Homo sapiens: one gene and its partners. The protein of the gene in region 2 interacts with the protein of the main gene of each other region in a pairwise test. Each region holds a gene or a part of one and is shown on either strand. Other genes may lie near its edges.

Region 1 (7,728 bases), on a different chromosome or scaffold from region 2:
ACAATTCCATACCTGGTGGTCAGAGGAGGCCCGCCTGCAGGCTCAGCTAAATCGGGCTGATGGCATTCCAATTACTCAGGCTCAGCTCACAGGCTCCGATAATTACTCTGATACTACTGCTCATTTAGGCTTTGATGCTCTCACCACGGAACAAGTAACAAAGGTGTGTATGAGAGCTTGGGATAAATTACGCACCCCAGGCCAAGCTTCTGTTTCTTTTACTATTGTTAAACAGGGTCACAATGAATTATATCTTGATTTTTTAGCTAAATTACAAGATGCTGTTGAAAAATCTGTCTCTGATGAGCACACTCAAGGTATTCTTCTTCATATGTTAGCTTTTCAAAATGCGAACCATGAGTGTAAAATGGCCGTGCATTCCATCCTACGTCAAAATTTACCTGATCATGAGGTGTTGCCTGCATATATTAAAGCTTGTGAAGGCGTTGGATCGGAGACCCACAGAGCTATTCTGTGGGCACCGGCCATGAAGCACGGCAACCAAACTGGCTCGACTGATTCTTTTCTTGGAGCCTGCTATAATTGTGGCCAACTTGGTCATACCCAAAAAAACTACACTGTTAAAAACTTAAAAGCGGCCAAGCCGGCTCAACAAACACGGCCAAATGCTCCTGCTACTGTTTGCCTGCGTTGTCGTAAGGGTAAACATTGGGCAAGTACTTGCCACTCAGTCTGATATAGATGAAAATCCCTTGCCACAGAACCAGGGAAACAGGAAGCAAGGCCAGTCCCAGGCCCCAATATCAAATGGGACACCTCGGACTCAGACCAATGTTGTGTTTTTGCGTCAAGCAGTCCCAACGCAGCCCCCAGCACAAACAAATTTACCTACAGCCAATCCAGATGGGTCCCAGCCTCTTCTTCTGTCTCAGTACAATGCTTGTCTACCTCCACAGTAGGCAGCAGGGCGGTCGATCTCTGTAGTACCATTCCTCTAAATTTACTACCTAATTCTTTGCCTTTAATTGTCCCCATGGGGGTCACTGGCCCTTTACCTCAAGGTTCGGTGGGCCTGGTGTTAGGCAGGGCATCCACCTCATGATACTAAAGGTATCATAGTTCATACTAGTCTCATTAATTCTGATTCCTCTGATGAGATTAAACTTATGTAAACTTATGGTGTCTGCCAAAGTTCCTGTTTCCATTCCGGCCAGTGAGTCAATTGCTCAATTACTTTTACTACCTAACATTGTTTTAAACAAAGGAGATAAGACATGGGGCCCTGGGATGGGCTCCAGCGGTGAAAAAGCCGCTTATTGGATTAATGTAATTTCTAAACAATGGCCTACCTGCACCATACACATTCAAGGAAAAAAGGTTGAGGGCCTAGTTGATACTGGGGCTGATGTTTCTATTATTTCCTCTAATTTATGGCCTTCCTCCTGGCTTAAACATCCCACTAACATGAAACTAGAAGGTGTTAGAAAAGCTGAAGAAGTTCACCAGAGCACATTTATCTTGGCTTGCACTGGCCCTGATGGTCAAAAGGGAACAATTCAGCCTTATATCATGCCCATCCCCATTAATCTTCGGGGCAGAGATTTGCTGGCACAAATTGGGGCTGAAATTAATATTCCACATAACTTTTACAGTGCTCCCAGTCAACATATAATGGAAAACATGGGGTTTGTTTCCAGACTCGGTCTCGGTCCAAAACGTGAAAAAATTACTAAACCTCTTCAAGTTACTGTAAAAGAAGACAAGGCTGGTTTAAAAGCATAATTTAACTACTCCCCACTCCCAATTATATTTAGCATTGTTTAAGCTTTCTAAATGTTCCTAAAAACAATACTCTGACTGCAGCTAAATGCCATTATACAGGCAAAAAATTCTCCCTAAACGAAGGCAAGCCAGTGTCATGGAAAAACTCCCAAACCAATACCTGGGAACCTGGAACAATTATAACGTGGGGAAGAGGGTATGCTTGTGTTTTACCAGGAGATCGTCAATCCCGTCTGGGTGCCCACTAGGAGACTTAAACTTCGTGTGAATACTGACAATAAAAACCACGAGGAAGAGACGTTCGCGTCAGAGACTGCCCTCATACCTGATGAGATCTGTACCGACTCCTCAGAAACTGGCATGCCAAATCAAAATGGGTCTGGTTCAATCCTCCCTAATGGCAATGTAAACCCCTCTAACTAATCCCACTTCTCCTAATTATCTTTTTCTCCTTACGAACCTAAAAATCTCACCATTTCTATTAGCCTGAAAATAACATCCCTCTGTTCTTCTCTTCCTCCTTCAGCACTGGATCTCACTTACAATAGGTTTTATTTAATAATTATCTTCCTTACACTTTCTGTCTCACCAGTTTCCCCTTAAACTGATTTACCTGCTACACAAAATTATTCTTATTGGGCTTATGTGCCTTTTCCTCCACTTATTCGACCTCTCACCTGGATGGATGCTCCTGCAGAAATCTATACTAACGATAGTGTGTGGATGCCTGGAACTACAGATGACCGTTGCACCGCTCAGCCAGGAGAAGGCACTGCATTTAATGTTACTATGGGTTATAAATACCCTCCTCTGTGCCTTGGACATGCACCTGGTTGTATCCATCTAGAAGCTCAAGTCTGGGCTGCTTGTCTTCCAGAGAGATTAGCTATAGGGAAATGGGGACATTTGGTCTCTGGCCTCTCCCTTTCTCCTTTAAGACAAATAAAAAGAGGAGTAATAGGAGATACCCCATACTTTCAATATAAACCTGTAGGAAAACCATATCCTAAAAATTTTGAGGGCCCATCTAAAACTTCAATTTGGGAATGATTGTGTTAACTCACATGCAGTAGTATTAAAAAATGACTCGGCTGGGCGCAGTGGCTCATGCCTGTAATCCCAGCACTTTGGGAGGCCAAGGCAGGTGGATCATGAGGTCAGGAGATTGAGACCATCCTGGCTAATACAGTGAAATCCCGTCTCTACTAAAAATACAAAAAAAATTAGCCAGGCGTGGTGGCAGATGCCTGTAGTCCCAGCTACTCGGGAGGCTGAGGCAGGAGAATGGCGTGAACCCGGGAGGCGGAGCTTGCAGTGAGCTGAGATCGCACCACTGTACTCCAGCTTGGGCGACAGAGCAAGACACTGTCTCAAAAAAAAAAAAAAAAAAAAAACCCCAAAAAAACAACTCATATGGTTTAGTAACAGACTGGGCACGAAAGGGCTATTTAAAAAACAGTTGCTCCTCTGGCGGAAAGGAATGCCTGGAGACTACTTATTTTATTTCTTACTGGGAGGACCAGGATCATCATCCTATTTTGCATAGAAGGTTCAGTTTGTTCTTTCCCTTAAAATAGGAAGATAAGGGCATTATCCCCCTAAGTCTCGTATGATATTCCCCATTCTGAGTCCAGAATACCTAGAAATTTGGAATTTGGCTATTGCCGTGTCTGGACTGTGAGTATGGGAAGGGGAAGCTTTTCTGTCTGTTGTCCCCACTACCGCCCCTCACATCCGTGATTCTGAACCCCATGATAAATGCCCTTTGAACCTTTTTCCTCCTTTTGATGCCGAATCCCCTTTTATGGGACTCCGCCAGCACGGGTGCATTTAACCTTCCTGAGCTTGCCCACCTGACGCATGCAGCCAAGAAGCTTTGAAAGATGGAGTGCCCTGGCTGAGGGTTCCAGGTCTCAGCAAGGCCACGAGGTGGTGACTGCCTCCCAGAACTCTGTTGGGCCACCCTCCGTCCTGGAGACCCCCAAAACCTCCATAGCACCAACTCTGCCCATTCACACACACAGTCAGCCCTCCCTCCCGAGTCCACCGCGGGCAGAGGGCCAGCCACCATGCCTCCCATAGCCGCCATCCCTGGGAAGGAGCCCTGACCCCGTCCTTACACCCCTCTACACTCACTGCCTGTGGGGAGAGCTGCTCGCTGTCACAAGCATCCAGGGGGCTGGGTCGAGGGGCCCCCTGCATGGTGGGGGACCATGTTGTCGTGCATGGAATGAAACTGGCCACACATAACAGATATGGTGGCGCTCTGGTCGGATCTAGGGGAGTCTGTCCTACAGGATGAGGCTTGAACTGTCCTGAGTGACCAGACACCCAGCCTCTGCTTCGAGTGCTCAGTTATGATTATTGTCCTGATTTAGTTAACTGTTCTTCAGGGGCTCCAGGAGGACGAGTGTGTATCCTCCCATTGCTCTGTGCAGCCTCTAACCTCTAGAGTCTAGGGGTCTGGGGAGAAGTTGGGAAGTCTGGCCAGTGGGGCCGGTGCCTGGTGACCTCGGGAGGTGGGATATCATCATCTTCAGAACTGTAGTTGTTACTGGGATACCAGCTCTGGGAGACCACAGGTGCAGTCAGCACAGCAGGACCTTAGACAAGGCACCCAGCCCCAGTTTCCCCACCTGGGAAGGGGGCTACTTGTGGCTAGAAGCAGCCCGGACTCCTGAGCAAGACTAGACCAAGAGGCCGGTATGTGGACACCCCCGCGTGGGCACCCCCACGGGGACACCCTGGCCACCGCCGCGCGGACACCCTCACGAGGACACCCCGGCCGCGCGGACACCTACCGCGGGGACGCCCCGACCCCATCCTACCTGCTGCGCCCCGCGCCGCGCCCCGCACCCCGCCCGCCACGGCCTGCGTCCGCCACCGGAAGCGCCCTCCTAATCCCCGCAGCGCCACCGCCATTGCCGCCATCGTCGTGGGGCTTCTGGGGCAGCTAGGGCTGCCCGCCGCGCTGCCTGCGCCGGACCGGGGCGGGTCCAGTCCCGGGCGGGCCGTCGCGGGAGAGGTGAGAGCGCTGGCTAGACCGGGGCCGAATGCGGCCGGATTCGGGGCGGGGGCCTTCAGACCTAGGGTGGAACACTGGGATAGGGTGTGGGGAATTCGGACCGCTGTGAAGTGATCTGACGTTGGGTGGGAGTCTCCGGACTTGGGGTGGGGAATCTGGATGGGAACTGGGGAATTCGGACCTTGGGTGGGGATCTTTGGACCGGGGTGGGGTCCCCAGACTCCTTGTGGAAAGCTGAGGTTGAAGATCTGTGCTGTGATGAGGGGCTCCAGATAGCGGTGAGAGATCCCGCTTCAAGACTGGGTTGGGGGTCCAGACCAGGAGGATAAGCCTCTCCCTGGAGTAGGGCTTGACCTGGTGAGGGTGTGGTAGAGTCACAGGGGAGGGTCCCACTTGGTCCTTGGGCTGGGATCAGACTCTCAGAGCTGGAGAGTTGCAGGAGGCCTGGGGGAGGGTCTGTGGAGCCCCAGACTCAGAGGGCCTTGGTGACTTCTCCAACAGGCTCCCTGTTGGAGGCCTTGGGGTACCCCAGGGCCTTTCCCTGCAAGAGAGAGGCTGCTCCACCAGGAAGGGGCCCAGGACTCCCCAGGGTCGGGGGGATGTGTGGTGTGCAGGACCACGTGGGAATGTTAGAGAAAGGGGAAGTCACTCCGGGCCTGCCCTGCTAACAGACCTGCTTTTTGGATTTTTCCAGCCAGGGATTTTTGTGTCCTGTTGCTTTTTATTGTTTAAAGTGACCCTCCAAGCCTGAGGGACCGTAGGAGCTGCCCTGCAGAGCCCAGTGAGACACTAGTTAATGCAGAAAAAACAGATTTTACTTGGTAACTACTGACAACATGAGAAAAAGCTGGCTCCATGCTGATTTGTCTAGATGTGCCTGGAGTTTAAAGGGAGAGTGAGGGAGTGGGAAGGGGTGGGGACTCAGTAGAGTTAGGGAAACAGAAAATCACCAAAACTGGGAAGGGAGGGTTGGCCCCTGTGAAACCAACTGATCTGGGTTTGCCACTGGGGCTTACCGAAGTCAGGCCCCCAACCTCCCACAGAGACTGGGAGACAGGGGCCCCATCCTCAGGTGTTGGCTGGAACACACAGGAAATTCTTGTGGCAGCCTTGAACTTCTCAGGCAGGCACTTTAGAGGGGGCTAGGATCGTTCTGGGAATGTGGCCTTGAGCTGTTAGGAGCTATGTTAGTGTTCGTTCCAGCCTAGATAGGCCAGGGTGAGGCCCAGTGGAGAAGGGGACTCTAAGGAGCCTGGCTGGAGTGTGGGGAGGGAGGGTCTTTGTCAGCACTCCCCCTGTGCAAGAAGAGCAGAGACCTGCTTCTTTCCTCTCAACAGTCCCCGTCCATTTTCTGTTCTGTGTTGTGTTCATAAACTACCAGCGGGACCATCTGTTGAGACTTGGTAGCAAAGGATTTTTGCTGGATGATGCAAGCAGTCAAGCATTTAATGAGGAAACAAAAATAACAGGCCAGGCACAGTGGCTCATGTCTGTAATCCCAGCACTTTTGGAGGCCGAGGAGGATCACTTGAGGCCAGGAGTTTGAAACAAGCCTGGGCAACATAAAGACCCCATCTCTACAAAAAATTTAAAAATTAGCCCGGCGTGGTGGCATGGGCCTATAGTTCCAGCTACTTGGGAGGCTGAGGTGAAAAGATCGTTTGAGCCTGGGAGGCGGAGGCTGCCATGAGCCATGATCTTGCCTCTATACTCCAGCCTGAGCAACAGAGAGCCCCTATCTTTAAAAAAAAAAAATAATAATAAAATAAAAAAATAAAAAGAAAGAAAGAAATAAAAACAAAGATGAATGGAGCTGTTGATAAACCCAGTTTTTGAGCCTACAGGGCAGCAGTTGAGGTTTCTGGCCGTTGGGCCCTAACAAGGCCAGCAGGGGCACTCAGGGACTTCCTGGTGTGTGGTGTGAAGTCTGTGATGATGGCATAGGCATTGGTATCCCAGTTGTGGTTACTTTCTGGAGAGAGCATGTGGCATGCAGGAGCTGGAGGGGGGGTCTTCCTGGGCGGCCTGTGTAGCAGCAGCTCCAGGCACAAAGGCTGCCCCTGGAGAATCTGTTGTGGTTCTGAGTTCTTTCAAGTTTATATCAAGTTTTCCGGCTTCAGTCTGCAGGGCTGTTTTTTTCAGATCCTGGGGGCAAAGGGCAGCTACAAGACCACCTGAGTCCCAATAGGGATTTGAGTTCTTGGTGACACCAAGTCAGGGAGGAGACAAATTAGAAATGTCAGTCTGAAGAGAGTGGTAGGTAGCCAGATACTGAAGGAAAGTAGATGGGAGGATTTGGTAAGGGCTGACGTGTAGGAAGGCAGTGACAGTCCAAGTGACAGGCAGATCATAAAACCTCAAGGATAGGCCGGGCCCGGTGGCTCATGCCTGTAATCCCAAGCACTTCGGGAGGCCGAGGTGGGCAAATCACCCGAGTCCAGAAGTTCGAGACCAGCCTGGCTAACATGGCAAAACCCTGTCTCTACTAAAAATACAAAACATTAGCCGGGCGTGGTGGTGCACTCAGGAGGCTGAGGCGGGATAATCGCTTGAACTGGGAGGTGGGGGGCTGCAGTAAGCCGAGATCGCACCACTGCACTCCAGCCTGGGCAACAAGAGCGAAACTCCATCTCAAAAAAGAATTAGGCCGGGAGCGGTGGCTCACGCCTGTAATCCCAGCACTTTGGGAGGCCGAGGCGGGTGGATCACGAGGTCAGGAGATCGAGACCATCCTGGCTAACACGGTGAAACCCCATCTCTACTAAAAATACAAAATTAGCCAGGCGTGGTGGCGGGCACCTGTAGTCCCAGCTACTTGGGAGGCTGAGGCAGGAGAATGGTGTGAACCCGGGAGGTGGAGCTTGCAATGAGCCGAGATCACACCACTGCACTCCAGCCTGGGCGACACAGCAAGACTGCGTCTCAAAAACAAAACAAAACAAAACAAAACACCTACAAAA
Region 2 (7,805 bases):
TGAATTGAAATTGAGCAGGGCTTCACTGGGCATCTGAGGAAGAGCAAGGAATCAGACCCTGTCCCACCCATTTGGGGCCTAAATTGCAGTAGGGCAGATGGACATTGCACCTCAAAAATAAACAGTGCTTGTCACATGAATCATTTGCAAATATTTTCTCCTATATTGTCTCTTCATTGTTGATTGCTTCTGTGCTGTGCAAAAGCTTTTTACTTTAATATACTCCCATTTGTCTGTTTTTGTTTTTGTTGCCTGTGATTTTGGGGTCTTAGCCATAAAATCTTTCCTGGAGCATTTCCCCATTTTCTTCTAGTAGTTTTATTTTATTTATTTTATTATTTGTATTTATTTATTTATTTATTTTTTGAGACACAGTCTCACTCTGAAACCCAGGCTGGAGTGCAGTGGCACAATCTTGGCTCACTGCAACCTTAGCCTCCTGGGATCAAGCGATTCTCCTGCCACACCCTCACAAGTAGCTGGGATTACAGGCGCATGCCACCACCCTGGCTAATTTTTATACTTTTAGTAGAGATGGGGTTTCACCATGTTGGACAGGCTGGGCTGGAACTCCTGACCTCAGGTGATCTGCCCGCCTCAGCCTCCCAGTGTGCTGGGATTACAGGTGTGAGCCACCACACCCAGCCTTTTTTTTTTTTTTTTTTTTTTTTTTTTTTTAAAGACAGAGTCTTGCTCTGTCGCCCCAGGCTGGAGTGCAGTGGTGTGATCTTGGCTCACTGCAACCTCCTCCTCTTGGGTTCAAGCATTTCTCCTGCCCCAGCCCCCTGAGTAACTGGGATTACAGATGTGCGCCACCACGCCCGGCTACTTTTTGTATTTTTAGTAGAGACGGGGTTGCACTGTGTTGGCCAGGCTGGTCTAGAACTCCTGACCTTAAGTGATCTGCCCGCCTCAACCTCCCAGTGTGCTGGGATTACAGGTGTGAGCCACCGCGCTGGCCTCTTCTAGTAGCTTTATAGTTTCAGGTCTTACTTTTAAGTCTTTAATCCATGTTGAGTTGATTACTGTGTGTGGTGAGAGATAGGGGCCTAGTTTTCATTCTTCTTCACATACTTATCCAATTTTCCCAGTGCCATTTATTGAAGAGACCATCCTTTCCCCAATGTAGGTTCTTCGTGCCTTTGTACTACTTATAATAGCTAAGATATGGAAGCAATCTAAGTGTCCACCAGTGGATTGATATGTAAAGAAAATGTGGTATAGATACATGATGGAATATTATTGAGCCATTTAAAAATAAACTGTTGGCGGGCGCGGTGTTTCAAGCCTGTAATCCCAGTACTTTGGGAGGCCAAGACGGCCAGATCACCTGAGATCAGGAGTTCGAGACCAGCCTGGCCAACATGGCGAAACCCCATCTCTACCAAAAATACAAGAATTAGCCAGGTGTGGTGGCAGGCGCCTATAATCCCAGCTACTTGGGAGGCTGAGGCAGGAGAATTGCTTGAACCTGGGAGACGCAGGCTGTGGTGAGCCGAGATTGTGCCACTGCACTCCAGCCTGGGTGACAGAGCGAGACCCTGTCTCAAAAAAAACCAAAACCAACTATAAAAAATAAAAAAAATAAAAAACTATTGGCTGGGTGCAGTAACTCACGCCTGTAATCCCAGCACTTTGGGAGGCCAAGGTGAGAGGGTCGCTTGAGCCTAGGAGTTTGAGACCAGTCTGGGCAACATAGCAAGACCCTGTCTTTCAAAAAAAATTTAAAAATTTGCCAGGCATGGTAACATGCCTGTGGTCCCATTTACCTGGGAGGCTGAAGTGAGAGGACCACTTGAGCCTGGGAGGTGGAGGCTGCAGTGAGCTGCAATCACACCACTGCACTCAGCCTGGGAGACAGAACGAGACCCTGTCTCAAAGAAATAAACAAACTAATAAGATAAATCTTGTTATTTGTGGCAACATGGATGAGCCTAGAGGACGTTATGTTAAGTGAAATAAGCCAGGAACAGAAAGATAAATATTGTATGTGTTAATTCTTATGTAAAATATTTAAAAAATCAAGCTCATGGAAATAGAAGCATAGTGGGTATTAGAAGCTGGAAAGATTAGAGAGTAGGGAAAGATTCGGAGGAGTCGGATAACAAATACAAAATGCCAGCTTCATAGCATGAATGGATCCTGCTGTTCTGCACTGTAGGGTGAGCACTGTTAACTACAATTTCTTGTGTATTTTCAAAAGACTATAAGAAAGGATTTGGAATGTTCCCAACACAAAGAAATGATAAATGTTCCAGGTGATGGATATGCTAATTACCTTGTTTGATCATTATACATTATATACATGTATCAAAATGTCACTCTATATGCTATTAAAAATAATAAAATAGGCTGGGCACAGTGGTTCACGCCTGTAATCCCGGCACTTTGGGAGGCTGAGGGGGACAGATCAGTTGAGGTCAGGAGTTCAATACCACCCCAGCCGATATGGCAAAATCCCATCTCTACTAAAATACAAAAATTAGCCGGGCGTGATGGCCCGCCTGTACTTCCAGCTACTCGGGAGGCTGAGGCAGGAGAATCGCTTGAACCCGGGAGGCGGAGGTTGCAGTGAGCCGAGATCCTGCCACTGTACCCCAGCCTGCCCCACAGAGCGAGACTCTGTCCCAAAAAATAAATAAAATAGGCCAGGTGTGGTGGCTCACGCCTGTCATCCCAGCACTTTGGGAGGCCGAGGCGGGCGGATCACTTGAGGTCAGGAGTTGGAGACCAGCCTGGCCAACATGGTGAAACCCTGTCTCTACTAAAAAAAATACAAAAAATTAGCTGTGCATGGTGGCGGGCGCCTGTAATCCCAGCTACTCAGGAGGCTGAGGCAGGAGAATCTCTTGAAAACGGGAGGCAGAGGTTGCAGTGAGGCAAGATCACACCACTCCAGCCTGGACAACAGTGCAGACAGTGCAAGATTCCGTCTCAATAAAAAAATAAAATAGGCCAGGCACGGTGGCTCATGCCTGTAATCCCAGCACTTTGGGAGGCCGAAGCAGGTAGATCACGAGGTCAGGAGTTGAAGACCAGCCTGACCAAGATGGTGAAACCCCGTCTCTACTAAAAATACAAAAATTAGCCGGGCTAATTTTAGTTGTAATCCCAGCTACTCAGGAGGCTGAGGCAGGAGAATCACTCAAACCCCGGAGGGAGAGGTTGTACTGAGCCGAGACCACGCCACTGCACTCCAGCCTGGGCGACAGAGCAAGAGTCTGTCTCAAAAAAACAAAATAAAATGAAGTAATAATAAAATAGTGCTAAGTGGTCTGCATATACAGATACTTTTTTTTTTTTTGAGACGGAGTCTCATTCTGTCGCCCAGGCTGGAGTGCAGTGGCACGATCTTGGCTCACTGCAACCTCCGCCTCCCAGGTTTGAGCGATTCTCCTGCCTCAGCCTCCCAAGTAGCTGGAACTACAGGCATGAGCCATCACGCCTGGCTAATTTTTGTATTTTAGTAGAGATGGGGTTTCACCATATTGGCCAGGGTGGTCTTGAACTCTTGACCTCAACTGATCCACCCACCTCAGCCACCCAGAGTGCTGGGATTACAGACGTGAGCCACCACGCCTGGCCACTTTTTTTTTTTTTTTTTTTTTTTTTGGGGGGGAGAGGGAGTTTCGCTCTTGTTGCCCAGGCTGGAGTGCAGTGGCGTGATCTCGGCTCACTGCAACCTCCGCCTCCCGGGCTCAAGCGATTCTCCTGCCTCAGCCTCCCGAGTAGCTGGGATTATAGGCATGTGCCACCACACCTGGCTAATTTTTTGTTTTGTTTTGTTTTGTTTTGTTTTGTTTTGTTTTGTTTTGTTTTTCTGAGATGAAGTCTCACTCTGCCGCCCAGGCTGGAGTGCAATGGCACGATCTTGGCTCACTGCAACCTCTGCCTCCTGGGTTCAAGCAATTCTCCCGTCTCAGCCTCCCAAGTAGCTGGGATTACAGGCGTGCGCCACCACGCCTGGTTAATTTTTTTGTATTTTTGTAGAGACAGGGTTTCACCATGTTGGCCAGACTGGTCTGGAACTCCTGACCTCAAGTGATCCACCCGCCTCTGCCTCCCAAAGTGTTGGGATTATAGGCGTGAGCCACCGTGCCCGGCCTAATTTTTTTGTATTTTTGGTAGAGACGGGGTTTCACCACATTGGCTAGGCTGGTCTCAAACTCCTGACCTCAGATGATCCACCTGCCTCGGCCTCCCAAAGTGCTAGGATTATAGGTGTGAGCCACTGCGCCTAGCTTTTTTTTTTTTAGAGATAGGGTCTTGCTCTGTGGCCCATAGCTCACTGCAGCCTCCATCTCCTGGGCTCAAGTGATCTTCCTGCCTCAGCCTCCTGAGGAGCTGGGACTATAGGTGCACCACCATGCCTGGCTAATTTTTATTTTATTTTTTAAATTTAATTTTATGTATTTTGTGTAGAGACAGGGTCTCACTTTGTTGCCCAGGCTGGTCTCAAACTCCTGGACTCAAGCAGTCCTCTCACCTTGGCCTTCCAAATTGCTGGGATTACAGATGTGAGCCACCATGCCCAGCTACATATGCTTTTTGATGTATAACAGGGTAATGTCCAGATAAACCCATCATAAGTCGAAAATATAGGAACTGGACTTTCAACTTAAGAGGGGTTTAGCTGGGTGCAGTGGCTCACTCCTGTAATCTCAGGACTTTGGGAGGCCAAGGCAGGAGGATCACTTGAGGCCAAGAGTTCGAGACCAGGCTGGGCAACATGGTGAGACCCTGTCTCTACAATTTTTTTTTTTTTTTTTTTTTAGATGGAGTCGCGCTCTGTCGCCCAGGTTGGAGTGCAGTGGCGCGATCTCAGCTCACTGCAAGCTCCGCCTCCAGGGTTCACGCCATTCTCCTGCCTCAGCCTCCCGAGTAGCTGGGACAACAGGCGCCCACCACCACGCCTGGCTATTTTTTGTATTGTTTTAGTAGAGACGGGGTTTCACCGTGTTAGCCAGGATGCTCTCGATCTCCTGACCTCGTGATCCACCCGCCTTGGCCTCCCAAAGTGCTGGGATTACAGGCATGAGCCACCATGCCTGGCCCAAAATTTTTTTAACAAAAATTAGCAGGGCAGGCCGGGCGCTGTGGTAGGGAGGCTGAGGTAGGAGAATGGCGTGAACCCGGGAGATGGAGCTTGCAGTGAGCCAAGATCGCACCACTGCACTCCAGCCTGGGCAACAGAGCAAGACTCCGTCTCAAAAAAAAAAAAAAAAATTAGCAGGGCAAGGTGGTGGTATATCCCTGGTCCCAACTACTTGGGAGGCTGAGGCAGGAGGATAGCTTGGGCCCAGGAGGTGGAGGCTGCAGTGAGCTGTGATTGTGCCACTGCACCCCAGCCTGGGCAACAGAGCAAGACCCCCGTGTCTAAATAAAAATACCCAGGCCATGGCAGCAGAAAGCAAGGAAGAAGCCACGTGGAAGCCCTCCTGGCGCTTCTTCCAGGGAGGTGAGCAGAGAGCACCTGGGGCCAGGAGGCGGCATGCCTGGGTTTCTGCTCCTCCTCACTGTAACTTTCAGCCAAGTCAAACTGCTAGAGTTTCAGTTTCTTTATCTGTGAAATGCCGGGGCTGGCACAGATGGTTTCTAAGATCCCTCCCAGGCCTGGAACTTCTAAGCGATTAGGTCAAAGGTGAGCTAACCGGGCTGGGCACAGTGGCTCATACCTGTGAATCCCAGCACTTTGGGAGGCTGAGGCGGGTGGATCACTTGAGGTCAGGAGTTCAAGACCAGCCTGGCCAACGTGGTGAAACCCCAACTCTACTAAAAATAGAAAAGTTAGCCGGGCATGGTGGTACACGCCTCTAATCACCGCTACTAGGGAGGCTGAGGCAGGAGAATCACCTGAACCTGGGAGGCGGAGGTTGCAGTGAGCCAAGATTGTGCCACTGCACTCTAGCCTGGGCAACAGAGTGAGACTCCGTCTCAAAAAAAAAAAAAAAGGTGCACAAACCGAGGCCCAAGACAGTTAAGGTGCAAGATCACATGGTTAGTAAGTGGGAGAGCCAAGGTTTGAACAGTCTGGCATCAGCTGACCAGGAACTGGAGCCCACCCTTCTCTCTCCCTGAGCCCGCCTACCCGCCCACCCTCTTGAGTGCGAAATTTATTAATATGGAAGGGAGAAGAGCTTTAATGATTGGAGTCATTTTCAGAGCATTAAAGCTCTTCTCCCTTCCATATTAATGTATTTCTCAGCTACTAGGGCTCACTTACAGCACCAGTGGCCCCAAAGCAGTTGACAGTCAGTGGTAATTAAATTGTCTCTCTGGTTCTGTGACTGAAGGAGACAGAAGGCTTTATGGTGGCCTGAGGAAAGAAGGTGATTTGGGGCTTGGCACTTCAGGAGAGGGCAGGCGAGTGAGCCAGGGAAGCTGGCCTGGGAAGCCTGCGGGTCACCCCCTTGCCTCCCGGCCTGGTGCTTGAGTGGCAGACGGTGAATCCTCCTCCTCCTCCATCCCCCACCTTGTGTCAGAGGCCAGAGCTCGGACTCCATCTAATGGTCTCTAGTTCAGCTGGGTATTTGGTGAAAAGGGCTTTGGGGCTGGAGACGTCCACTTTTATAACACACTGACATGGGAAGGCGCATTCTGAGTTGTAATGACAGAGCTAGACAGGTCTTGTCTGTAGATGCAGTGGCTTTAAGGAAACTAGGACGATGGGCAGGATTTTCCTAGGTGCCAGGAGAAAGGGGTGATAGAGGATTCTAGAGGCTTGAGAGAGTCAGTGTGCAGCGGTTTCACTCTGATTTGCTTCTCCAGTGAAGATGGTTGGTAGCTCCTGAGGCCGGGGGTCAGGAACATGGAGGCGGTGCTGGGGACGGTTTGTTTTCTAACCACACTCCTTTTGTAACCACAAAGGAAAAAGGCAGAACGTTCCTCCGCTGGCGCCAGCCAATCAGCAGGACTCCTGCCTTCCTTCGGGGCAAGGTCGCAGCATCTGCCTCGGAAATCACGAAATCACGGGGCTTCTTTCTGCTGGCTCAGCCGGGAGGCCCAGAGTGTTCTGCAGAGGCTGCGTATTGAAGGCTGCTCTCTGAAGCTCCCTGCCCCAGGTCACGCCGCCGGTTCCAGATGAATCCAGAGTGGGGGCAGGCCTTCGTGCACGTGGCCGTGGCCGGTGGCCTCTGTGCCGTGGCTGTGTTCACGGGCATTTTCGACAGTGTTTCCGTGCAAGTGGGCTATGAGCACTACGCCGAGGCGCCCGTGGCCGGCCTCCCTGCCTTCCTGGCCATGCCGTTCAACTCACTCGTGAACATGGCCTACACGCTGCTGGGGCTGTCGTGGCTGCACAGGGGCGGCGCGATGGGGCTGGGTCCCCGCTACCTGAAGGACGTGTTCGCAGCCATGGCCCTGCTCTATGGCCCCGTGCAGTGGCTGCGCCTGTGGACGCAGTGGCGCCGTGCCGCGGTGCTGGACCAGTGGCTCACACTGCCCATCTTTGCATGGCCCGTGGCCTGGTGCCTCTACCTAGACCGCGGCTGGCGGCCCTGGCTGTTCCTCTCTCTTGAGTGCGTCTCCCTGGCCAGTTATGGCCTCGCTCTGCTGCATCCCCAGGGCTTCGAGGTCGCACTGGGTGCTCACGTGGTGGCCGCTGTGGGGCAGGCGCTGCGCACCCACAGGCACTATGGCAGCACCACCTCGGCTACCTACTTAGCTTTGGGGGTGCTCTCTTGCCTGGGCTTTGTGGTCCTCAAGCTGTGTGACCATCAGCTCGCACGGTGGCGTCTCTTCCAGTGCCTCACAGGCCACTTCTGGTCCAAGGTCTGTGACGTGCTCCAGTTCCACTTTGCGTTTTT
Region 3 (8,052 bases), on a different chromosome or scaffold from region 2:
TGTGATTTATTAGGGAAACTTACAGACAGAAATGTTGTCTTGGGCAGCCGCAAGACAATTAGATCTTCGCACTACAACACCCCAGACCCAGGGCTTATATCTTGGGAAAAGAGCATATGTGCTCTGGAAGGAATGTGTAGGTGGCTATGGGTGTCAGAGGAGAGCCTATGATTTCTGTAACAACAAGGGTTGTTTTGGAGGAAACTTAAAATGAATAGATGTTCCTGTTAGAGAAACCCCTGCTTTTCAGGCCTCTGGTTTAATAATGCATGAACAGAGGGACTCCATCTTGAGTGAGTAACTAAGCACTCACAAGGCTTATAAGGTTAATACTTCTGGTCGAAAATAGTCACATCTCAAGCTGACCACCACTTATAAATGCAGAGTATTTATAACCATACAGAGCATCTCCCACCAAGCCTTCAGAATGCCCAGATGTCCTAAGAGTGCAGCCCACTTTGCTTAAAGATACCATTAACTAAGAGGCTTGGGTTGAAGGATTGATTAATGGTCACCTGTAACACCAATAGCCCCTACCTTTAGTGAGCACATCTGCATGTTCCAAGTTTAATATTGCTCCTTTTAGTTTCTTATAAGTATAGAGGCACTAAAAAAGAATGGAATGTTCCTTCTCCTGCTGAAGACTCCTACTTTGTAACAGAGTAGTTTCCAATAAACTTGCTTATTTCACTGTTCTCTCTGACTCGCCTCAAAATCTTTCCTACACGAGATCCAAGAACCTGCTCTTAGGGTCTGCATCGGGACCATCTTTTCCAGCGATGTTTCTACATAAAGAGTAAGTAATCCCAGCACTTTGAGAGGCAGTGGCAGGAGAATCACTTGAGCTCAGAATGTTGAGGCTGCAGTGAGCTGTGATCATGCCACTGTATTCCAGCCTGGGTGAAAGAGCAAGACCCTGTCTCAAAAATTAAAATAAAATAAAGACAGTTTTGTCCCCACATCCCTCCAGGCTGGAATCTCAGGGAAGCAGGTGGTTGTAGCGGAAGCACCCAAATAGGTGGGGTATTGGGGCTGGGTGCAGTGGCTCACGCCTGTAATCCCAGCACTTTGGGAGGCCAAGGCGGGCAGATCACTGAGGTCAGTAGTTTAAGACTAGCCTGGTCAATGTGGTGAAACCCCGTTTCTACTAAAAATACAAAAATTAGCCAGGCATGATGGCGGGTGCCTGTAGTCCCAGCTACTCGGGAGGCTGAGGCAGGAGAATCTCTTGAACCCAGAAGGTGGAGGTTGCAGTGAGCCAAGATTGCTCCACTGCACGCCAGCCTGGGCGACAGAATGAGACTCTGTCTCCAAAAAAAAAAAAAAAAAAAAATTAAAAAACAAATAGGTGGGGTACTGGAGAAACTGAAGAGATCGGAGCTGGTAGTCCACTTTCCCTCTAGGAAAGGAGGAGAGGCCTTACATTTGGCTTGCTTCACACCACCTTCACCATGGTGCTAGAGCAATGGCATTCAGTGGCAGAGGTAGCCTGATTGGGCATCCTGAGATAACTGCTGCTTCTCAGTAGCCTGCATGTGACATATGTGAGAATCTACATGTTTACATATTGCCCCAGTAAGTAACATTGGAGATGGTAAGCAGTCTGGTGAGCTAGTGGAGCTAAGGAGCCATAGCTTATGAGGGTTTTACAACCAGAGGTAAATGGCTGGAACCCTGGATCTCCGCAGTGAGGGCTGGCCTGGTACCACAAAAAGCCAGATGAAACCCGCTTCCCCTTAGTGAGGACCTACAGGTGTCATGCAGAGCTGAGGTCTCATTTTCCTGACCTCCACCATCAGGTCATATGAACACCTTGTACAATCAGATACTGTCTTGGGAAGAATCAAGAGAAGAGAGAGGAGAGACTAAACATTTTCCTAAAGGAGACCAGCTTCCTAAAAGGTGCAATTAAACTTGAAGAGTCTAAGATACTTTTTTTTTTTTTTTTTTTTTGCCGGAATCTTATTCTGTCGCCCAGGCTGGAGTGCAGTGACACAATTTCAGCCCACTGCAACCTCCACCTCCCGGGTTCAAGCAATTCTCCTGCCTCAGCCTCCTGAGTAGCTGGGATTACAGGTGCCCGCCATCATGCTGGGCTAATTTTTGTATTTTTAGTAGAGATGGGGTTTTGCCATGTTGGCCAGGCTGGTCTCAAACTCCTGACCTCAGTTATCTGCCCACCTCAGCCTCTCAAAGTGCTGGGATTACAGACGTGAGCCACCATGCCCGGCCTAAGATACTTTTTATTGATAAATTTAAGCTCACATTGTCTTCTCTTTTTACCCCGTCTAATAGTAGGGTGGGGCTTCTTTCTTTTTCTTCTTTTTTGAGACAGGTTCTTGCTTTGCTTTTTTTTTTTTTTTTTTTGAGACAGCGTCTTGCTGTGTCACCCAGGCTGGAGTGTAGCGGCACAATCGTGGCTCACTGCAGCCTCAACCTCCCTTGCTCAAGCAATCCTTCTGCCTCGCCCAGTTAATTTTTTAATTTTTTGTAGAGACAGGGTCCCACTATGTCGCTGACGCTGGTCTCAATTCCTGGGCTCAAGCCATCTCCCTGCCTTGGTCTCCCAAAGTGCTGGCCTTGGTCTTCCAAAGTGCTGGCATTACAGGCATGAGCCACCATGCTGGGTCTAGGGTGGGGTTTCAAGCTAAACTAGATCAGTTATAGATAATAAAGAACAGTCATTCTTCCTGTTCATCTGAGAGTCAAACTTTTTTTTAAAAAACTCTAATATAGATACTTTGTGCTTCCAAGTAATCTCATGGAGAAAAGCTTATTTCATTTATTTATTAATTCAGTAATATGACTACCCGACATATACTAGGTACCGGTGGCACAAACATCAATTATGTGTCATTCCTGTGCTCAGAGAGCTGGGTTCCTAGCAGGCTAAATACACTAGTGAGCAGGTGCTCACACCAGAAATAAGAGGGCTCCCATACAGTTACATACTGGGTGCTTTGGGAGAGGCATCTCCCCAAGGGTTTGGAAGCATCCAGGAAGGCTTGCTGGAGAAGGGAGCCTTTCAGATTGGCCAATATTTTTGTTAAGTGACAATATCAAATGATGGCAAAACTGTGGATGAAAAACTGGGAATACAAATTGGTACATTTCTGGAGAGCAGTGTTTTTACAAAATCTTTAAAATGTACATTTTTTAAAACCATAGTTCCACCTCTAGTAATTTATCCTAAGGAAATACTTTAGCTGTAGGGATGTTCATTGCAGTGTTATTTATAGCAATGAAAAATTCTCCAACAGTTGAGGGCTGATTAAAGTATATATTTTCACAAATCAGATATATAGTAATTAAAAATTGTGTTGTAGAAGCAAGCTTCTCAAACAGTGCTGCTCCAGAGACTACGTGCTCATTTGCCAAGGAATATGTGAGGCCATAGGACAAACTTAGTTCATCTTTCTCAACACGAATTTTACTGGTGATTTAGGAGTGTGACAGAGGCTACTAGTTAACTATCCCAATGTCCATTCTCTTTCCTCCTCAGTAACAAAACTCTTGATTTGTACCAGGGTGTGTTGCTGCTCACGAATAATAAGACTACATATCCCCATTCTCTGATGTGGCTAGATGTGGCTTTAGGAGTAAATGCAAACCAACGAGGTGTCAATGAACTGTTATGAAAGACTTTCAGGGAGGCCACCTTGATGGAGCTGACTCACAGGGTTGAGACAAGGGAGTGACCATTTAGCTACTTTCAGTAATTTTTAAAAAGCTTCTGTGTGATTTAAAAAGTTTTTTAAAAATTATTCTTAAAGTGGAAACAAATACAGTTTCAAATGTTTGGCTAATTCTAATTTGAGGAGTACAAGAAGAGGAGAAAAGGAGGGGGATGTGGGAGGAAGCGGATGCTTTATTTCTAAGAGAATCTTGGATAAGCAATGCTGATTTTCCTCTATGATTAAGTCCAATCTGAAAAGGCTGACAAGTCTCGTATAAATTGCTTGTGGTAGAGACTCCTTTTTTTGTGTTTTCACTGTGCTTATGGTTATTTCATTTTGTAGAATCCAAGATGCCCGCCCTCCTCCTCCTCCTCCTCCACCCTCTCCCAAATTTGCCTAAGATATAATAGGCAGGGTTTCAGGATTTAGAAACGATGCACGTAGATTTCAGACTGCGCCTCTCTCTGACATCAGAAAACCTACATTGCCTAAGGCTGGCACAGAGTTGGCCCCAAAGTCTACTTAGAATTTGCCGGCGGAACAGCAATGACCACTGGGCCACAGCGCTTAAGACGCCCGCTGGGTACCAATCCTGGGAGTCGGGGGCGGTGCGAGTCGGGCCCCCCCCATCCCAGGTCTGCGTAGCCAATAGCTCGGGACGGGAGCGGGAGGGGCGTGGCGTGTCCGGCAGGGGGCGCCGTGATTGGCACGCCAGCTCCCGCTGTCCGCGAGGCTGCCCTAAAGTCTAGCTCATGAGAACCCCAGGCAAGTGCGGACCTACAAAGTTTGTCCGCTCCGGGGCACTGTAGTGGCTTTTACCCTGGCCGGGCGGGCGGGGCTCAGCCGGGCTGGGCTGGGCTCCGCGGCTGGAGCCGGGCTCTACCCAGAGCAAGACCCTGATGGCTGCGGTGTTTCTGGTAACGCTTTATGAATACTCGCCGCTTTTCTACATCGCGGTGGTCTTTACCTGCTTCATCGTGACCACCGGCCTGGTATTGGGATGGTAAGTGTCCCAGGGGTGAGAGACGAAGGGGCGGATACCGCCAGAGTGGGGTCGCGACGAGCAGCAGGGGGCACCGGAGCCGGAGGGCCGCGGGCCGGAGGACGTCGGGGATTCGGTGTCCCCGGGTGCCTAGAACTCCGACTTTCTCTGGGAGGAAAACAAGGTGGACGCTGCACCTGCGTCACTGCCCTGCATCACCGTTTGGTCCGTGTCGCTGGGGCATCTTGGGGTGGTACCGCATTGGGGTGTTTTACTCAGCTTTGTTTCTAGGCGATAAAGCAGCCAGGAAGGGCTTGGGCTTGGGCTTGGTGTTGGGAGAAAGTGCTTCTCTAGTAGGCTTCTGTCCCGGATTCGGGCCTACTGTGTGTCCTGGATGAGTTAGTCACCTGTGCTACAGTGCACAGACTGGACAGTAAGCGAGGTTAACAGTTGTGATTCTGACCTGAATGGAGCCCTTAGCCTCAGATCTTTCAGAGTAACTTGTAACTGAACTGTTACCGTTTGAGAATTTAATGGTTTCTGTATACATTCCACACCTTTTGAAGTAATATTTAGTCGATAGAATTGTAAAATCATAATTTTAGAGCTGGAAGAGACCTTAGAAATATGTAACACCGAGGGTAGGACAGTTGCCTATTGGAGACAAGGAGAATGGTCTGTTAGATAACCGCTGAGCAATTCTTCTAGCCTAGAGGTTCAATTTCTCTCTTGAGGAGATGCTATTGTATCATGTTTAGACAAGCCTTGTAAATAACGAGTTGAAACCGTGTAACTAGCCCACAACAGTTTTTCTAGGCTGCAGCCTCCAAAATCCCTTTGAGATGATAATAGTTACAAAAAGATCAAACAGCAGTTCTAAGTGGATAACAGCCATGGTCTGAAGAGGTCAGAGGGGACTCTGTTGAAGAGGGACATGAGCTGGATTTTGGAGAATGAGCATTTTGAAAAATAAATGGAGTTAAATGTATATAGTAGGGAAGAAAAAGCATCTCAGAGAAGACAGCATGAGCATAGGGGCAGAGAACATGTTAGTGAATAAAGAAGGCTACGTAAAACGAGTTTTAAAATAGCCTTTGGTCACATATATGTGATTGCCTTAAAGAACACGGGCCCTTGTCGGTTTCTGAAAATATATGCCATCTTTAGGAAGTGACAAAAGTTTTAACCTGTCCACACTGCTCCTCACCCTACCAGCAATAGAGCATAGAATTCCTTGCCTTGTATGTGGGTGAGGATTGGAAATACAAATTCCTTATTTGTGGGGGTAAGATTGGAAAACAAAGACCAATCTTACACAATTGGTTATTCTTGACCCATCAGATTTTATTGCTAATGTTCATTACACAAAAGTTTGTAATTGGAATGAGGAAGGTGTTGCCCATGTGAGAAAAGCAGTCTTAACACAAGATTTTTAAATGACTATAATGTTAGTGTTATTCTCTTAATGAAGCATAATTTTCCTCCACTAAGGAAAATAGTAACTAGTTGATAATTGCCTTATGTGCTTTAATTTTTATTTTAAATAGGCCAACTAATTAGATATCTTAGATATCAATCTTTAGTATTGGGAAGAGGGTAGTCAGGAGCCTCATGTTTGTAGTGGTTAACAGACAGACTTTGGAGTCAGTCAGACATAGGTTCAAATCCTGGCTCTGCCAGCTTTAAGACTTGGTTTGAAAATTTAATAATTGCCAAATCACCCCATTTAGGTAAGACTTTTTACAAGAGTGGAAGCCCATGTAATTATAGAACGTTTGGAAGTCTGGGCTAAGCACTGCTGAGGCCACAAGACCATGTAAATCCAGTCACTTCCATCCTAATTTAGGCCTAACCAGTCATCTTGTGCCTAACCCAACCATTCTCTCCATCCGAGTTAGTTTTGCCCACGTAGATAAACTTTTTACTATGTTTATTTGCAAACTTAAGCCAAGGCCATGTATTTATTGACTAGAAATGATGAAAACTTGGACACCATCTAAATCGCATAAAAACATCTTTCTAATAGTACCAATAGTACCCCAGTCAGAAGGGTAAACTAGTTAATACGCATGTTTTTCACCCTTGTCATTGTTTTGTTTTGTTTTAACCTCCCATAATACCATCTCTACTGTTCATGTGTTTTCTGTCATGGTTTTTCCCTTGGTACTTCTCTGAGTTTTTCACTATTTGCTTCTTTCCACTGTTTGCCATGTCTGCCTGCACTGTGTGGGAGTGGAGAAAAAACAGGAGCATATGATTATTGGAATCCCAATAGCAATAGCAAAGAAGCATGCAACTGGAAATATAGTATTTTTCTTTCACCATGTGGTGGTTTCTGTGATCTCTGATAGCTTTCTGCAGGCACTGAGCACAAAGAAGCCCAAAAGTCCATTTACATCCTTTAACAGTTTCAAATAATCAGGGACCATGACTCCAGTAGCTATTCCCGGCCTCCTCTTGACCACAGTTTATTAAGCTGTTGACCTCAACTTCATACCACCCTCTGCTTTGTGAATCTAGGGCAGAACTCTAAACTACATTTCTTCTTTGCAAGCTGACTGCCCATTGGGCTTTGCCAACAAGGGAGGGAGACTGGAAAGCTGGAAGAGGATGAAGGGACTTGCTGCTTCCTGTTGATTCCTTTTCTTGTCTGTCACTTGCCACAATAGTGCCTCACTCTGGCATTAATAGTTGGTCCCACTTGTTCCAGTTTATGCTTTCCTACTCTGCTAGAATCAGCCTTATGCACTTCCTTAAAGATACCAGTATCCTTTCCTCAGATCTGAGTCCTGAGCTCCATAGAGTCTCTCCTCCACATTTCTAAACTATAGTAAATTCTCTTTATTCTCTTTTCTCTGTTCCCTTGTCCTAGGAGTGATAGCTGCTTCCTGCTGTTACTACTTCTTATCACATAAGTAGGACTCAGTGTCCTCTTTTTGCCTTTTCAGTTCTTCAACATATGGTTAACATTTTTCATATGAAAATTTCTCTTGATGTTGATGCTGACAACTTTAAAAATCAAGTCCAATCTCTCTGTTAAAATAACGGATGCATTTTCAGACTCCTGCCTGGACCCTGACTGATAAAGAAATTGTCACTAAGAATGGGATCCTGGTGAGAAAACTTTCAAAGATAGAATTTGGGGGCATCGGTTTGGTAATTTCTTTAGCTCTTTGCCAATGGGAAATAATCTAGTAACCCACAACATGTAGTGGCATCACAATCAAATTGATACATTTGGTTGATTGTGATAAAATTATTTCTGAAGCTGTGTGCTGGAGGACCAAGTGGCTAAAGCGCTTGACTGTTAATGGCAGTAATGATGACTACAGGGACTGAGGGAGAAGTGAGAAGTGAGATAGGTGCTTCTTTGTTCACTGGAGCACTGACAGA
Region 4 (7,805 bases), on a different chromosome or scaffold from region 2:
TTTGCGCAAGGACAAAATTGCCTTACAACACATTTCTTAGAATGTATCCCTTTGTTAAGTGACGTATGATTGTATATAGTGGGGAGGCGTGGGAATGTGATCAGGGAGAGGGAATTTCAGAGGTATTGGTATTTATGAAATCAGGTTAAGACAAGTTAAGCTAAAGTAACAAATAGCCCTAATAAGTCAATTGTTTAAAATAAAGATTTGGTTTTCACTCGTTTCATGTTTAATGTGGGTTTGGCAGGTGACTGTGTTGCACAGTCACTCCGTTTTTTGGTGCTGTCTTGTAGGAGTTTACCATAGTAGGAAGAAAAGAAGATTGAAAATTGAACATTGGCAATTAAATCCTTTCACCAGTAAATGACATGTGACACTCCTACTTTTATTTACCAAAAGCAAGTCATATAACTTGGGAGACAGGAAATAAATTCTCTCTTCTAAAAGGAGGATTATGTCTATCCTTAAAGAGTAGTTACTTCTACTACTGTCATATTTTATTTCTTAAACTTTCTTTTTAATCATATAGGTTGGAAGACTGAGTGTGTGTGTTTATGAGTGTAACACATGCATATATTTGATGTATGGTCTATTTCATAATGAAAAATTGGAAGAAAACAGTACAGCCACATGCTGTCAATTTTTAGTTAAATTATTTATTCAGAAGAGTTATTCTTCATACTGATTCTTTGCCAGTTACATTATGAATATCTTCTCCCAGTTTTTAAGTTATCTTTTCACTTTTATCTTTTTGATGAACAAAGTATTTTATTTTTTGAGACTGGCTTTCACTCTGTTGCCCAGGCTGAAGTGCAGTAGCACGATCATAGTTCACTATAACCTTGAACTCCTGGGCTCAAGCGATCCTCCTGCCTCAGACTTCCAAGTAGCTGGGATTACAGCTGTGTGCCATTACACCATGCTAGTTTTCTTCCTTTCTTTCTTCTTTTTTTTTCTGTAGGGATAGGATCTTGCTATTTTGCCTAGGTTGGTCTCAAACTCCTGGGTTCAAGAAATTCTTCCTCAGCCTCCCAAAGTGCTGAGATTACAGGCATGAGCCACCACTCCAGGCCTTAATTTTAATGTATTCAAATATGTCAACCTTTTTTTAATAGCCAACATTTCCATGTCTTAAGAAATTAGTTTCTTACTATACTTAGTATAGTAGTTACAGGTGTGAGCCACTGCACCCAGCCAGTATTCTTGACCTTCTATCTTTTCATATAAAAATTTTAATAATTTTACCAAATTTAATGGAAAACCCATTAGGAATTTTGATTGTAATTGCATTGAATCTTTAGATCAATTTCATCTTCATATTATTAACATTGCCACTAACGTGGTATATGTCTCCGTTTATTTAGTACTTGTTTAAATTCTCAATAAAATTTTAGAGTTTTCCCTATAGAGGTACTAAACATCTTTTTGTTAGATTTGTTCCTAGATAAGTAATAATTTCTGGTATTGAAATATATTCTCTTTAATTGTATTTTCTAATTGTTTTCTGCTGATATATAAAAAATACAAGACAAAAGAAAAGTCAACAAAAGACATGAATAGATATTTCCTAGAAAAGGAAATATGAAGAGATGCTCATCACCACCAAGGAGCAGAGAATTACAAATCAAGAATACAGTGAGGTACTATTTTACACCCATTTGATTGACAAAAATTAAAACATCTGACAGTATCGTGTATTGAAGAGAAAGTGCATCCACAGGATCTTATACATTACTAGAGGGAGCACACTTTGGAAAGCATTTTCACATTTCTTCTAAAGTTATATTTTGTGACTCAGTAGTTCTTAGATAATATCCAAAGCAAATTCTTGTACATGTAAAATAAGAGACACATTATTGAAATTTACAAAAGCAAAAACCTGTAACCAACCTAAATGTCTATCAGTGGAAGAAGATCAATAGACTCTGGTTTATTCACACAATGAAATGTTATACAACAAAATGAATGACTGCTGAAACATAGACAATATGAATGACTATTGACAGTGTAATATTAAGTAAAACAGATGTACAGCACAAAACCCTTTTTATAAAGTCAAACAACTAAGTAAATACTTTTTAGAAATATTTGTAGATGCAATATGACTATTAGAGAAGGAAGAGAATAATCAACATATGATTCAAATGATAGTTTTCTGAGGTGGAGGGAGCAGGGCTTAAATAAAGGATATGGAGTATATATCACAAACTGGTAGCCCATTAGCTTAATTTAACCCAAAAATGTATGTGGCTTTTCAGCTTTGCCTCCTTTCTTTCCCCTTCTTTCTTTTTTCCCTCCTTTCTTCCTGCCTGCCTTCCTTTCTTTCCCTTCTTCCCTCCCTCCCTCTTTCATTCCTTTCTTTCTTCTTTGTCTCTCTTTCTTTTATCCAATCTTTACATTTCTTTTAGTTAATAATGGTGATAATCATTGTGTTATTTGCTAAGCCAGCTATACCTGTTGCCTTTGTTTGGGGGTAGGTCCATGTACTAGGTTAGCCATTGCATTGTGAGCAGAAGTGTTATGTCACTACTGGGTCAGCAGTTAATTGCTATAGCAAGACCTTCCTGACCTCTCTCTTCTCCTTGTGTTGTGGTGGCCAGCAACACTGAATACTGACTGTACAGTCAGCCTAGAGCCTTGAGAGACTAATCAGCAGAACCTCTCTGTTAGCCTTTAGTTGGCACTTGGCATTAATGAAAAATAAACCTTTGTGGTTTAAAACCACTAAGATTTGCCCCTACAGCGTAATCTAGATTTTCCTGATTGAAACAGTTCCCTACATTTAAAAATCAAGATATTTTACATAAAAGTCTAAATTGTAATCATAAAAATCAAAATATCTGGCTATGGTGACCTAAATTTTTTAATGATAGCAATTGACTAAAGGTGACTCGGAATTTGCCCCCTTTACACTAGACTTACGCTTCTCAGTTCACCACAGTCTCCTTGATATTTGCAGCCCCTAATACAGAGTGTGGGAAGCAATATGTTCTGTGTTTAAGTGGCCTGATTTGCTTATTGTTTATTGTTTAAAATTAGCATTTTCAGTCTTATAGGTAGGTTCTGTAAAAATGCAAAATAAAATAGAAGTTACTACCTGAATTTCAGAGGAACTATTAATAATTCAGCTAATGAGTTCAACAGGGAGATAAGCAGGCTAAGTGACATTTTTTGATGGTGTGAATAAAGATCAGAGCCAAGAATGTGTTCCTGTTGCAAGATACAGGATACTTTGTGTTTCTGGCTAAAGTCAACAATAACATTTGCTTTTGATAGTACTTCAGTCTTTTAAAAAATATTTTCTGTACATATCTCATTTAATTCTTACACCAACTTCATGCATTAAGTAGAGCAGGTTAATTTTCAACCAGCTTGATAGATGAGGAAACTAAGGTATTGAATAAATAATTGACTTACCTGAGGTCACTGAGCTGGGCAGAAGCAAAGCTGGAATTGTGACTCTAGAGCTTTTAACTATACTTTGGGAAATTCAAATAATAAGCTTGTTTTGCTTCAAAAGTCAATATGCCAAATTTGAAAGTCCCATTTGAGTTGTTCATTTACAAGAACTGATAACTTCACTTCCCAGGCATTTAAGAGAGAATGCTATTTATAGATCTTATGAAATATAGTATGAATGTGGGTCAGATTCTCCAATTGTCTGCCCTAAGATGTTAACACTGGCATGGACAGTCCAAAAAGTATAATAGAAGTGTTATTATTTATAACTTTAAAGATATTTCCCCCCAGTTGTTTTATCTTCTATTGCTTTACTGAGGCTACTATTAAAATCAGTTTGAATGCATTGATTAGAGCCTGACTAGGCTTCGGGGAGTACAACCTTGGATTGTTCTGTAGGATGAAAGACAACAATTTAAGGTTAACTAGCATTCCTAGAAATAAGAGACTTCACTCAATTACATGCCTGTTATAGCATCTGAATATGTATCACATATGTACCAAATTGCCCTAAAAGCTGTTAAAATTTAAGAGAGGGTAATCCCATTTGAAAATGCAACCACCATTTTGTTTCAGTAGAGCAGACAGAACCATAAATCAAATTTAAAACCAGATAATTCAGTCACCTCCCTGATTTGGTCAAAATTAGTTGCTTTCTTTTGACAACTATGAAATCAAGTTGAAAAAGAAACTTCACTTTGTGACCTAAGGCCTAACTCACTGATGGACTTTCTCTGAAGATAAATTAAGAGATGGGGCAGTTTCTGTTAAATATTAACATTATGATCTGAAAACTATTGAAACTCTACAGGAAGATGGCTGTTTTTCCCCTAGACTTTCAAGATAGAGAATGGGGTAGGAGAACCACTAGAATTATCAACGTTTAATGTTAATTTTTTATTTTCTTAGAGGAATTATAATTATTTGCTGCCCACACAAAGGAATTTTCCTCTATTTTCTTTTACATAGATCCATTTGAACCACAGCGACGTCTCCCCGCGAAGAAAAGTCGACAACAACTTCAGCGAGAAAAAGCCCTTGTAGAGCAAAGCCAAAAACTTGGGCTTCAAGATGGATCAACCTCATTACTTCCAGAGCAGCTGCTTTCAGCACCAAAACAGAGAGTTAACGTTCAAAAACCACCTTTTTCTTCCCCTACTCTTCCGAGTCATTTCACTCTCACCTCCCCCGTTGGTGATGGACAACCACAGGGCATTGAAAGTCAGCCAAAGGAACTGGGACTTGAGAATTCCCATGATGGTCACAACAATGTTGAGATTCTACCTCCAAAGCCAGATTGCAAATTGGAGAAAAAGAAAGTGGAATTGTTAGTAAGTCTATGTGAAAAGTCCATGAGACTTTTCATTTAACCCGTTTTTTCCCAATGGGCTTTAAGGAAATATAATTTGTTTATTTTAACATTTTCTCTCCTTTATATTCATTCAATCATAGGAATGTGATGTATAAACTATTGAAAAATAGCTACTGCCTAAATATAAGCTGGACACAGGCATTCTGTATGTTTTATGTTCTTTAGTCTTCATAACAGCCTTACAATGCATGTTTATTATTTAAACTTTATACATGAGGTATCTGGGACTCAGAAAAGATGATACCTTTCTAAAGCTAATACACTGCTAGTAAATAGTAGAGATTTACAGATAAGTCTGTCTGGATCCAAAGTTTATGCCTTTTACACTGAGCAGAAGCAGTTCTTTTTTTCTTTCTTTTTTTTTTTTTTTTGAGATGGAGTCTCGCTCTGTTGCCCAGGCTGGAGTGCAATGGCGCAATCACAGCTCAGAAGCAGTTCTTATATGCATAGTGCCTCTGCCCAAATTGACCCCTTTTTTCAACTTCCAGACTATTTCCATTGGCCCAGAAATTGGAACTTGTGGAGAGACGTGAAGGGATGGTCAAAGGAGAGAGTGTAGGAAATTTAGGGGACTAATGATATAACTCAGTTCATCATTAGATTTCTTTTTATTTATTCTTTACTGTCTTTGTATTAGAAACAACCTTCATAATTTAGCTACACTGTTCTTGTGGAAGATGCCATTTTTTGATTTGCAAATTCTTAGAATTTTTTATTTGATAGCTTGTGTTTTAATATATACTCTTATTTCTTTGTTTGCTCCTGATTTATCTCTCACAGAGAAGGAATGACATTTTTCTGTTTTCTCTTTTCTGAGTTCTTTTCAAAGTATCTTTTTTTTTTTCTAATCTCTGACATCTTTTTAATCTCTGCTGATCCAGATTCTATCCTGTGAATTTAAAATGTTTCCTGTCCACTAGGGGTTTACAACTAAGAAATCATTTTGACAAGAGTTATAAAACCACATGAATTATGAAACCTATATTGAACAAGTGCATACATTAAAGTGTCTCTAAGTGTAGTTTACTAACAAAGGCCGGAGACAAATAGGAGGTAAGTTTACATTGAGCTGGACAATTTGGATTGGATGTTATAGGGAAACTTATTCTTTTTTTGGATACTTGGAAGAATTTTCATAAAAGACCTGTAACCTCAAACCATTCACGTAAAGGAGAAATTTTGAGGTTTTAAGGAGGAGAAAGGAAAGCTGTGTCCTAGAGAATGTTCAGAGATGATACCTCATTTCTCTGGGAGAGGTGGCAAAGGATAAGCCAGAGAACAGTAGAGAATTAAAGAAATGAGGAAGGAGGACAGGCGTGGTGGCCCACACCTATAATCCCAGCACTTTGGGAGGCTGAGGCAGGCACATCACTTGAGGCCAAGAGTTGAAACCAGCTTGGCCAACATGGGGAAACCCTGTCTCTACCAAAAATACAAAAAAATTAGCTGGGCGTGGTGGTGCATGCCTGTAGTCCCAGCTACTTGGGAGACTGAGGCACAAGAATTGCTTGAACCTGGGAGGTGGACGTTGCAGTGAGCCAAGATCATGCCACTGCATTCCAGCCTGGGCAACAGAGCAAGATTCTGTCCCAAAAAAAAAAAAAAAAAAAAAAAGCAGAACTGAGGAAGGATCAGAAGCAGAAGCAGGGGATGAATAAGTAGAGAATTAAAGAAATGAGAAAGGATCGGAAGCAGGGGATGCCTTCCTTCCTAGCAAGTTCACTAATGCAGCAAGTTACCATGAAGCTCTCTGAGGGCTAAAGGCCGCAATCAAAATAAAGGTTAGAGAAATCCCAGGTGTCAATATTGTAGATCATATGCAAGAGAGTGCATAGTGAGCTGTGGAACTAAGGCGCCTGGTGAGGAGATGCCTGCAGTAGTAAAAGTGAGAAATGACCAGTCCCAGCACTAAGGTGGAAGGTGTAGAAATGGAGAGAGAAGGACAATTTTGGAAGGGGCTACTAGATTTGGGAATAGAGGTATGTGATATAATGGCTGTAAGAAGTGACAGTAATAGGAATAAATAGCTTTGCCAATACCTTGTTTAATTTGAGTTGACATCAAGCTCATGACTTTATGGGAAATTTTAATGTATTTATTTTAGAATTGGACAGATTGTAAGACAATACATGTTTTCACATCTTTGAATTTTTTTCTTTAGCCCAGCATTCCAGTCTTAGCTCTTAGTGTTTTACTTTGTTTAAAAATGTCCAAGTTGGGCTGGGCACAGTGGCTCACACCTGTAATCCCAGCACTTAGGGAGGCAGAGGCGGGAGGATAGCTTGAGCCTAGGAGTTCGAGACCTGACTGGGTAATATAGCGACACCCTGTTCTCCACAAAAAGGAAAAAAGAAAGACAAAAAAAAGTCTTAAGAGTTGGGAAAAAGTGAGCAAATTGAAAGAAAATATTAATATATGAAATAAACATTGGTTATTGTCTGAAACATGTTAAGGTGGTGGAGACTTTATAGAAAACTCTAAAAGGTATAAATAATATGACATCAGCTACAAACCAATTTTTATTAATCTCCATTCTGCATATAATACATAATTAACTTACACAAATTTCTTTGTACTCCTAAACACATGCCACAGTATTCTGGCTTCCAGTTTGTGGATTCCTAGATTATATATATAATGGATTTCAGAGGTCCAATTTATGTAAGCCTCTTTACTTTAGATCGTAGTCTTTGTTCCCATTAGAGCAAAATAATGAACTGCAGATGGGTTTCTTTTAAGAGGACTTTTGAAAGAACATATACATAAATCTTCTTGATTAAATTTTATACTTAGAGGACTGAGACTGGTAAGGTGTTGGATAGGGTAGCAGTTTCTTTTTCTTTCATAAACTCATTTTTATGCTTTTTTTGCCCCCTAGGCAAGAAAAATCTCGTTGGGAAGTCCTCCAACAAGAACAACGGCTAATGGAAGAGAAAAATAAACGTAAAAAAGCTCTTTTGGCTAAAGCTATTGC

What was found.
Region 1: the proteins of TMEM187 (region 2) and COMT interact in binary tests that used the Homo sapiens proteins (3 or more experiments, as listed by UniProt).
Region 3: the proteins of TMEM187 (region 2) and CGRRF1 interact in binary tests that used the Homo sapiens proteins (3 or more experiments, as listed by UniProt).
Region 4: the proteins of TMEM187 (region 2) and GORAB interact in binary tests that used the Homo sapiens proteins (3 or more experiments, as listed by UniProt).

What each region holds. Positions count from the first base shown.
Region 1 is NC_000022.11:19,937,130-19,944,857, forward strand, and holds the start of COMT (catechol O-methyltransferase), read left to right. Parts: upstream 1-4,674; 5' UTR 4,675-4,768; intron 4,769-7,728. Other genes in the region: TXNRD2 (thioredoxin reductase 2, mitochondrial isoform 5 precursor), read right to left, coding at 4,572-4,674; endogenous retrovirus group K member 24 Gag polyprotein-like, read left to right, coding at 1-697. UniProt on the Homo sapiens protein: Catalyzes the O-methylation, and thereby the inactivation, of catecholamine neurotransmitters and catechol hormones. Also shortens the biological half-lives of certain neuroactive drugs, like L-DOPA, alpha-methyl DOPA and isoproterenol.
Region 2 is NC_000023.11:153,974,983-153,982,787, forward strand, and holds part of TMEM187 (transmembrane protein 187), read left to right. Parts: intron 1-6,114; exon of another isoform or gene 6,115-6,195; intron 6,196-6,867; 5' UTR 6,868-7,080; coding exon 7,081-7,805.
Region 3 is NC_000014.9:54,505,384-54,513,435, forward strand, and holds the start of CGRRF1 (cell growth regulator with RING finger domain protein 1), read left to right. Parts: upstream 1-4,522; 5' UTR 4,523-4,576; coding exon 4,577-4,680; intron 4,681-8,052. UniProt on the Homo sapiens protein: Able to inhibit growth in several cell lines.
Region 4 is NC_000001.11:170,534,782-170,542,586, forward strand, and holds part of GORAB (RAB6-interacting golgin), read left to right. Parts: intron 1-1,528; exon of another isoform or gene 1,529-1,640; intron 1,641-4,428; coding exon 4,429-4,786; exon of another isoform or gene 4,787-4,790; intron 4,791-7,709; coding exon 7,710-7,805.